Regions from separate parts of the Homo sapiens genome. Here region 1 is linked to region 2. Evidence: fine-mapped expression QTL. A gene starts in region 2. The other region holds a variant in brackets. All regions are shown on one strand. Distances are between the middles of the regions. Region 1 overlaps PITPNM2 (phosphatidylinositol transfer protein membrane associated 2). Region 2 holds the start of PITPNM2 (phosphatidylinositol transfer protein membrane associated 2).

Region 1 (5,235 bases), 27 kb before region 2:
CCGGGCGTGGTGACACACGCCTGTAGTCCCAGCTACTCAGGAGGCTGAGGCAGGAGAATCGCTTGAACCTGGGAGGCGGAGGTTGCAGTGAGCCAAGATCGTGTCATTGCACTCCAACCTGGGTGACAGAACAAGGCTCCGTCTCCAAAAAAAAGAAGAAAGAAAGAAATGACGTCAACTTACAGATCTGGGAAATCCAAGTCGCAAGCCTGTTGATAGGCCTCCTGGTCACATCTGAGCTCCCCCAAAAACATAACCTCCCTGAAGGTTAGCTTCTGGTGTTTCTCAGATACTCGGTGGTAAACAAGCTGACAGAGAAGGGGCAAGGTAGCTGCTGCCCCCACCCTTTACCAGGAACATATCTTCCAGACCACAACCTGACTACAGGAATCCAAAAACCCAAGAGCCCCTCAGTCGTGTGCAAGCTGGCAGCTAATGGGAATGAACAGTCTTAACTGGCTATGCCAGGAACTACCCTACAGCCTGCCCTTTGCGGTAGAAAAGGCTCTCACACAGAAGGAGTTTTCTCCAGATTTTTATTTTACTTAAAAGCTCTTCCTTGCCTGGGGTTTTGAGGTTGAAAACCACTGCCTCGCACTCACACATTGTAAGTGGGAGTGTAAATTGGTACTACCTTTATGGAGAGCAATTTAGCAATTGCTAACAAAAATAAAAGAAAAACACTCCTTGACCCAGCAATTCTACTTCTGGAAATTTATTCTACAGACATGAGAGTATATTTGCATGAAAACCTACTTATTGAGATGCCTGCTACAGCACTGTTTGCTTCCCATCTTCTGCTCTTACAATCTAAAACCCCATCAACAGGGACCTGGTTTAACACATGATGGTCCACCCATGAGCAGAATACTAAGCCCACCATTACAAGAACTGAACAACTCTACATGAGCCAACAGAGAACCATCTGCAGGATTTATGTATTGTGAAGTCAAAAAAGCAGATGCACAACAATAGGCAGCCATTTGTGTTTAGCTTTGTTTTTAAGTAATATAGGCCAGGCAAGGTTGATCACACCTATAATCCCAACACTCTAGGAGGCCGAGGTGAGAGGACTGCTTGAAGCCAGGAGTTTGAGACCAGCCTAGCCAACATAGCAAGACTCCATGTCTACAAAAATAAAAAAATTAGCCAGGTGCAGTTGCACGTGCCTCTAGTCCCAGCTACTCAAGAGGCTGAGGCAGGAGGACTGCTTGAGCCCAGGAGTTTGAGGCTGCAGTGAGCTATGATCACACCACTGCTCTCTAGCCTGGGTAACAGAGCAAACCCTCTCTCTCTCAAAAAAAACAAAAAAAAATTAAATTAAATTAAATTTTTAGGCCGGGAGCATTGGCTCATGCCTATAATCCCCACACTTTGGGAGGCTGAGACAGGTGGATCAATTGAGGCCAGGAGTTGGAGATCAGTCTAGCCAACATGACAAAACCCCGGCTCTACTAAAAAATACAAAAATTAGCCAGGTGTAGGGGGACATTCCTGTAATCGCAGCTACTTGGGAGGCTGAGGCACAAGAATCGCCTGAACCCAGGAGGCAGAGGTTGTAGTGAGTGGAGATCGCACCACCGCACTCTACCCTGGGCAACAGAGCAAGATTCTGCCTCAAAAAAAAAAAAAAATTAAAATTTAAAATTTAAAAAGTGGCCAGGCACAGTGGCTCACACCTGTAATCCCACCACTTTGGGAGGCCGACGCGGGCAGATCATGAGGTTAGGAGATCGAGACCACCCTGGCTAACACGGTGAAACCCTATCTCTACTAAAAATACAAAAAAATTAGCCTGGCGTGGTGGCAGATGCCTGTAACCCCAGCTACTCGGGAGGCTGAGGCAGGAGAATCGCTTGGACCCAGGAGGCGGAGGTTGCAGTGAGCCCGAGATTGTGCCACTGCAGTCCAGCCTGGGCGACAGAGTGAGACTCCGTCTCAAAAAATAAAATAAAAATACAAAATATTAGCCAGGCATGGTGGTGTGCACCTGTAATTCCAGCTACTTGGGAGACTGAGGCAGGAGAATCACTTGAACCCATGAGACGGAAGCTGCAGTGAGCCAAGATCACACCACTGCACTCCAACCTGGGCAACAGAGCGAGACTCCATCTCAAAAAAAAAAATTAAAAAGTAATATACATTAATATATACAGAGAATCTCTCTGAAAGAGGACACACACACAAAACTAGCAACCATCACTGTCTCTGGGAAGGAAAACTAAGATATTGAAGACAGGGGTGGCAAGAAGTCTTTTTTATTATTATTATTATACTTTAAGTTCTAGGGTATATGCACAACGTGCAGGTTTGTTACATATGTATACATGTGCCATGTTGGTGTGCTACACCCATTAACTCGTCATTTACATTAGGTATATCTCCTAATGCTATCCCTCCCCCATCCCCCAACCCGGCAAGAAGTCTTATGTTTGCCTGTAGCTGCTTTTCACTTCGGTACCAAGTATAATGCATTACTTACTTACCCAAATAATATTTAAAATATATATGATCTTTATATTTTATTACTGAACTGTAATCTATGAGTTTGTAAGTTCCATAAGGAATGTATCTAATTTATCTTTAGAATCTTGCTAATGTCTGGTGCACT[A/G]TCATGCATAGCCTTTTCAATGTTTCGTTAAAAAAATTTTTTTTATTTTGAGACAGAGTCTCGCTCTGTAGTCCAGATGGAGTGCAGCGGTGACATCACAGCTCACTGCAGCCTTGATCTCTTGGGCTCCCTTGATCCTCCTGCCTCAGCCTCCCAAGTAGCTGGGACTACAGGCATGTGTCACCATGCCCAGCTAATTTTTGTATTTTTTTTGTAGAGATGAGGTCTTGCCATGTTGCCCAGGTTGGTCTCAAACTCCTGGGCTCAAGCAATCTGCCCACCTCAACCTCCCAAATGTTAAATGTTTTTTAGTAAGTGAAAGAATGAATGAGTAAATGATTCTAAAGCACTCAAAAAACAATGTTCTTTGAATCCTAGAAAATTGTGAGTCTTGAATTGTTAGAGAAGGAAGAAGTTAGGTAGAAGCAAAAACAAATAAATAATTGATATCTGGATACAAAAAGCAGACTCAGTCATATCAAAGGATGATGCACACCACTGATGGTTCATTTAAGTTGATGCTACAGATTTAACAAGAGTTTTTAAAATTTCAATTCTAATTATTTTATGTTTTAAAATGCCAATATTTAATATTTCTTTTGGAATAGCAGAACGCAAAGAAAATGCATGGTACAGGCCAGGCGCTGTGGCTCACGCCTGTAATCCCAGCACTTTGGGAGGCCGAGGGGGGCGGATCACGAGGTCAGGAGTTTGAGACCAGCCTGACCAACAAGGTGAAACCCCGTCTCTATTAAAAATACAAAAATTAGCTGGGCGTGGTGGCAGGCACCTGTAATCCCAGCTCTCAGGAGGCTGAGGCAGGAGAATCGCTTGAACCCCAGAGGCCGAGGTTGCAGTGAGCCGAGATTACTCCACTGTACTCCAGCCTGGGCGACAGAGCGAGACTCTGTCTCAAAAAAAAAAAAAAAAATTAGGGTTTTTTTTTTTTTTTTTTTTTTTGAGATGGAGTCTCGCACTGTCACCCAGGCTGGAGCGCAGTGGCGTGATCTCGGCTCACTGCAAGCTCCGCCTCTCAGGTTCACGCCATTCTCCTGTCTCAGCCTCCGGAGTAGCTGGGACTACAGGCACCCGCCACCACGCCCAGCTAATTTTTTGTATTTTTAGTAGAGACAGGGTTTCACTGTGTTAGCCAGGATGGTCTCAATCTTCTGACCTTGTGATCCGCCTGCCTCGGCCTCCCAAAGTGCTGGGATTACAGGCTTGAGCCACCATGCCCAGCCTAGGCTCTACCTTTTAATCCTGTGACCCTCATATCCCTAAAGAATCAGAAAGAAGATCTAAAAACCAAGCAGACCCTTCAGTGAGTTGAATATAACTGCTAAGGGTTCTGCAGGGATTGATGCATATCCTTGGGTAAGCTTGGGAATTCTTGCCCTATTAACCTCTCACTCTTGCCCTACTATTCTCCACAATCCAGTCTGGCAAGCAAGCTGACTACAACTCCCACCATTTAGAAGAGGGCCAACTTGCAGATCAGACCACCAAGCTTCAGGCGAAAAGCTGTCACAAAGCTGGAGGGCTTTAGTCCTAGGAGAACTGCACACTGACCCCTCTGGTGGTCATGCAAACCACTATGGTTAAAATAAGGCAGAAAATTAAAAGTAGCAAAACCACACTGAGTGAGTAAAGAAAAAGAACTAGGGAGGAGGGAGGATGACTTAGGAAGTATGGCCAGCATGATGGGTTCAGCCTGTGGGACAGCTGGCAGACACACATCCATCCACCCCTTCCGTGGCCTCCGAGAACAGCCTGATTCATGACATTGGAACTTCAGCTTCATCATGGTAGCCCCAGTCAGCTGAATGACTCAGCAATCCCTCAAAGACTGAATTATCTCTAGGGTTCTCTGTTGATTGAAAGAGAGGCAAGAATTGCCTTTGAGAAAGATCAGGATAATGACTGGGAAAATGTGATGAAGCTTGCATGAATGACAGCAGTGATGAAGCAGTGTCTGTTCTCTGGTTTCCAGCAGGAGCAAAAGATTTACTTCCAACAACCAGGCTCTGTTCACTGGGGTCTCGTCCAAACACTGCCCTCAGCATGGTGGTCTAGGGGATGCCAGGGCAAGGGACCACAAAGCTACAGGGAATTTCTGAGAGCCCTGCCCTTGGAGAATGCACGAATGGTTCATCCCTCCTCAAGTCACATCCATCATCCAGGATGAGTTGAGCTTGAAATAATGGACTTCCAGGCTCTGTGACAACGACTTAATGGTGCACAAATGTGTTCAAAACATTCTGGAAGAGTCCTCAGAATAACCCCACTGAGAGATGCTGAACACCCTGCATCACGCCACTTACACCGCTGCCCTCCATTTCCTGGGAGTCCAGGTCGCAGGGGACCCAGGAGGTGCTGGCAGCTGCCTGAACTGTCCGGGTGTTACTCTTGTTTCTAACCAGAAAATAAGGTCACTGGCGTGTTGATGCCCAAGCAAACAGGTGTTAGAGGTGCTCCTACCCATCAAATTCAACAATGGTTTCCACTGACGCATAGAAAAACAATGGTGTTTGCCTACTTATTTTGCAACAGGCTGCCATACTGTCTTATTCTAATTAATTTTGAGTTTGTCTACTTTGAAAACCTAAGACAACGGCTGTATCCAC
Region 2 (5,235 bases):
GCCTTTGAAAGCCTCTAGGTAGCCTGAGAGGACTGCAGCTTAGGGTATGAATGAAATGGTAGGAGAGGAGGCAGAAAAGGTAGACAGGACCCAGATCCCAGGGGGCCTTAGATACGCAGAGGAATTCTTTCAGATTCCATAAGGTGCAACCAAAACCAAGAGAAACCAAGTGACTTAGTTAAGCTCCTGTAGCAAGTTATGGGAAAAGCCAGGCCTGGAACCCCAGTCTCTCGACTCCCGCAGTCCACTTCTCTCCCCTGCTGCCTCCCACGCCTGAGCAGCTGGGGAAGACCAGGAGAGAGAATGGCCCATTCAACACTCACTACCCAGAGAATCTGGAGTCTTTGCCTGGCCATCTTCAGGGCAGAGGATGTACTGTCCTGTTCACTTGGCAAGCCACTCCTTACAAGAAAAACAGCCCTTCCTAACTCATTGTGTTTCTCTCTGCAGTGGGAGAGGGCTGGAAGTCCATTCCAACCACAGAATACAGTCCCTTCATGGAAGGAAAGTAATTTAACAGCAACAGTCCAGGAATCAGACAAGCTATGGTCCCAGAGGCAAGCGTTGGAGGGGCCTTCTGCTCCACGGAGACACTGACTCCACGCAGGGTACTGACCAGGGCAGGAGACCAGAGATGAATCAACTCCAGCCCGGGAGCTCACCGTCCAGCAGGGGAGATAAGGCAGATGGAAAAGTAACTATAAAATAAGGCAGACGGTGATAAGAGTTACACAGGAGATACAGATAGCAGGCAGTGGGAGTTCAGAGCAGAGAGGAGTCTGGGGGATGGATGTTAGGGGAGATTCAGATGAAGGGGAGCACTTACTGCCTTCCCTCCAGAAGTGGGGGGTCTATCCTAGCAGCTCTGGTCACTCCCAGGTGGAGGCCGGGGAGAGAGCTGGTTGTGGACAAAGACAGATGTTCCAGTGAGGTCTCCTTTGAAGAATCCCGACTCTGGGTGGGGGAGGCAGGTAGGCCGGGGTGTTTGGAGAGGCACCCAGCCCACACTTCAGTGGGAGGGAGAGGAGTGCAGGATGTCTCTGCAGGAGCAAGTCGGTGGAAAGGGGACAAGCCTGGAGGACTTGCCTTGAAATGACATTTGCACCGCGCGCACTATGTTCACCTGGAGTGGCCGTTTGGGATTTCTTGCGGGGAGGCAGTGCACACTGGGGCGGGGGACACTGAACTTTCCCTCTCCCCAAGGCCCCCCGATCAGCCCTGCCACGGATAAGAAAGGATTCGGGGTGGGAAGAAGACAGAGCCGGCACCCCATTACCACACGAAGGGGGCACTGAGGATGGAGACGGGCCACACCCCAACCCTGGGCCCCCGACAAGCAGAGGCCACGGCCCGGGCCTGGGGACGTTCAGCTGGAGGCGGGAAGCAGAGAAGGCGGGCCGGGGGCTCACCTCCGCTTCCTCCCGATAGCCCCTTCCTCGCCCTGGCACCGGCACTGCCCACGCCTGCCCCCCGACCGCTATGACACTTGTCCCTGGCGGGGGTCCCCCACGCGGTCGCGACCGACGGAAATTCGGAAATCAGCGTTTCGGGCACGGATCCAGGGCCGGCGACTCACTGAGGCCAGGCTCGGGCGGTCTCCCGAGCGGGGCTCCCGTACGCCACACCCTCCTCCCTGCCCGGGTCTCCGCTCCCTCCTCCAGCCCCCGGCGGGCTGGAGGCTCGGCGGGCGGGCGGGCCGGGGCCTCTCTGGGAGCCGCCGCCCAGATCCCCAGGTCCCCGGCCAGCGCCCGGCACTGCGGGACTCACCGCGGGCCTGCGGAGCGGCCGCCCGGACGCACTCACCCCGCTCGGCGCGGCCGCGGGCTCTGTCCTCTTCGGGGCCCCGGCTGGGCCGCCGCCACCTCACGCCGCCTCACGGGGAGCGCCCGCCCCGCGGCCCCGGCCCGGCCGGCTGCGCCCCGCGCGCCCCCGCCGCCTGCTGGCCCCGGGCGAGCGGCAGAGCCCCGGCGGGCATTGCTCCCGAGCGTCGCAGGCGGGCGGCGGCGGCGCACGTGCTGGCGGGCGGCTCTCGCTGAGGCGGCCGCGAGCTGAGAAGGAAGCGCCGGGCGGGCGGCCGGGGCCGGCTGGACAGCTCTACGCCGCGGCGCCGCGGTGCCCCGCGCACCCCAGCGGCCGCTGCTGCCCGCGCGCGCCGGGCCGGGCTCGCATTCCCTCAGTGGCGGCGGCGCCTCCTCAGGCCGCGCGGGGGAGCGGCGGCGGCGGCGGCGGGGGCGCGTCCCTGCGGAGTCTCGGCCCGGCCCCGCCGCCTCCGCCGGAAGAAACCTCTCCGACTCGGGCAGCCCGCCTGGTTCCTCAGACCTGCCGCGGCGACCCCGCTCCTCCCCGGCTCGCCCGTGTCCTCAGGGCCCGGGACTGGACTCGGGGGCGGCGGCGCGGATCCCCGCCCCGGGCTCCTCGCCCACCGTCCGCAGCAGCCGAGCGCACTCGGGGGCGGGAACCGGCCGACTTGCGGCCACTGTGACTCTTAAAACAGCCTCATTTTAAAAAATGAAGTTTCTTAGGAGCGAAATGGTAAACCAGGGAGGGCAGAGCGCAGCGGGCAGCTCACCGAAGCCCAGCCCCGGGCGCGGTGCTCGCCACACGGTGGGTCCGCGCTCTCCCCTCAGGACGCCCGGGCCGCGGCCCAGGGAACGGCAGAGCCGGGAGCGCAGCCGTCCCGGTCCCCACCTCAGGGAGTAGCTGGAAGAGGATCACGAACAGTTTAATCCGGATGATCTGGCACGACAGGGCTCTCCAATGGGAAGAGCCCCCGGTGGGGGAGCGCCTGGTGACATTCCTTAAAAACATGAGGTGTTTGTTAGGTTGAGCCAGGGTGGACTTGTTTGGCAAAATCTGAAGTCATGGAACTAAAGAGAGCACACCTAAAACTTAGTGATGTGTGACCCATCCCTACTTGTCACCTTATAAGGCTGAGGAGACGGCGGTGCTCCCCTGGAGGAGAGAGGACAAGCTAAAATTAAGGCGGCCTAGATGACTCCAGATGAAGCCGGGGAGGCCGAGCCCCTGACAGCTGCTCACCTCCTGGGGTCACGGCAGAACCCAACTGAACGGGCCAGGAAGGCCATCGTTCCCGACTCGCCTCCAGGTGCCCCTGACCATGACCACGCAGAGGAGGACCAAGGCGTACCACCATCACCTAGAACGCTTCAGCTCCTTCCCTCCACCAAGAGGTGCCCTAGGATCCATCCAGAAAGATCTGCGGAGCCCACAGAGTCCCAACGGGAACTGTGCTCCTGGATGGACGCCCCTTAACCCATAACTCAAGGACTTCTCTATGCCTGGGACTTAAAATCACCAACAACCCGCTCCTGCAGCCAGCTAGCAGAAATAAACACACAAAGGCCACACGCCAGTTCACAGCCACAAGTATTTATTGAGTGCCTGTAGTGCAAGAAAGAGAGATGGTCCCTGCTCCCGCGGAGCTTACAGCTTCACGACTCCAGCATCTGGCTAGATTCAGAAACAACTGCAGCAAGCACTTGTCTACCCACCAGCAGCACTGTAAAAAGCACATTTCTCACATTATCGGTCACTGTTACAGTGAAATTGTTAGATGTAAAAATTATCCTTGAAATCTGTAGTCATAGAGATGACATGGTACATAATGTCCAGCAAATGCACATTTATGGCTTGATTCCTCACATATCTGAGGGGTCTATGGAAATAAAGTACAAATCAGGCAGAAAAGACTTAGTAACACAGTTCCTAAGAATACTGGGGTAGTAGTTTATTATCAAACTACCATAGAGCTCTTGGCAGGGCAGGAAATTATTTCCAGCAAAATTTGTGCAATATAGTGGATTTAATCAAACCTGCAACTGTCAACCATACATGGTCCCTCATGACAGGTAAATATAATCTACCTGTCTGAATGGTAAAAGGCTACAGGTGTGCATTTATTTTTTAAAGCTTCTTAAAGACTCATAGCACAAGTGGCACATTGAAATCTAGTGAAAACTTGAGATAATCTAAAAATTAAAGTGACAAAAGTGTCTAATTTTACTACATATGTAGGTGCAGAGTTCAGATTTCAAGTAGCGTCCAGCAAAGCACGTGGCTTTTCTGGGCGAGAAGGGGATAGCTTTTGGTTGGCTATCACAGACTCCACCTACATCTCCTAACACCCACTGGCAGGCACTTCCTGTGCATGGTTCTGCCCACAAGCTGTCACCTTTAGATGAAACATTTGAAGGGGCAATTATTTGGAGGATACTGGCAATAATTTTTAGAAAAACAACCTATATTTATACCAAATAACCCCCAAGTCACCAATTAAGACCAAAGTGCTTTCTGAACTTACACGTGACAGGTTATCAAATTTGTTAAATTTTTGGTGGCTAAAAAACCAAACACACCAGAGGGATGCTTAATTTAAACTCCAAAAAAGCTCATTTTTTTGCAAAGCGTGAAGAGAACATCTTAGACCACCTAACAAATGTCAGTCCAAGGCAGTTTTTAGGTCAACTGCTTCGGACATAATCTACTTTTTTATTTCAGAAAGTATGCTACCTCAAGGCTGGGCGCAGTGGCTCACGCCTGTAATCCCAACACTATGGGAGGCCAAGGCAGGCAGATCATTTGGGGTCAGAAGTTCAAGACCAGGATGGCCAACATGGTGAGAACCCCGTCTCTACCGAAAATACAAAAATTAACCAGGCGTGGTATGCACCTGTAATCCCACCTACACGGGAGGCTGAGGCAGGAGAATAGCTTGAACCCAGGAGACAGGTTGCAGTGAGCCAGTATCACACCACTGCACTCCAGCCTGGGCAACAGAACTAGAGACTCCATCTCAAAAAAAAAAAAAAAAAAAAAAAAGGATGCTACCTCAAAAACCTACTTAACTCAATGAATCTGAAATATAATATTTCTTGAGCACTTACTAAGCACCAGGCACTTTACAAAATCTCCCTTAATGAAAGGAGTTTTCTTATTTCATCTTATAGCTGAGAAAGGCAGGCCTGTGCCAGGATGTGACCCAGGTCTCTCTGGCTCCAAGTCTCTCCTTTCTTGTCCCCTGAGCCCAGCTCTGCACAACCCTAGCACGGCCACTTTAGCTACATCTGTTGCTTCAGTTGGAAAAGTCCTTCAGTTGCAAAGACCATTTCCATACCTCAGGAGTAGCTCCTGCAAACAGAGGCTTAGCAAGGGAAAGGAAGGGGGCAGATCCAGGCATCAGGGGAGAGTTCACTTTCTATTTGCATTTTAAAAGGC

What was found. PIP is the estimated chance that this variant, and not a neighbour inherited with it, causes the effect.
Region 1: its variant is fine-mapped to the expression of PITPNM2 in fibroblasts (GTEx, PIP above 0.99).

Annotation. Positions count from the first base shown.
Region 1 is chr12:123,122,317-123,127,551 of GRCh38, forward strand. The region is part of intron 1 of PITPNM2 (phosphatidylinositol transfer protein membrane associated 2); the gene reads right to left. Among named protein-coding and RNA genes, the nearest start is that of PITPNM2, 26 kb to the right of the region's middle. The variant A/G (reference allele first, on the strand shown) is at 2,612.
Region 2 is chr12:123,148,950-123,154,184 of GRCh38, forward strand. It overlaps PITPNM2 (phosphatidylinositol transfer protein membrane associated 2), which reads right to left and starts at 2,141. Exons shown (of 26, transcript NM_020845.3): 1 at 1,804-2,141. It also overlaps a transcript of MPHOSPH9 not described here. RefSeq lists silencers at 1,695-1,784, 1,885-2,024, 2,045-2,304, 2,325-2,524.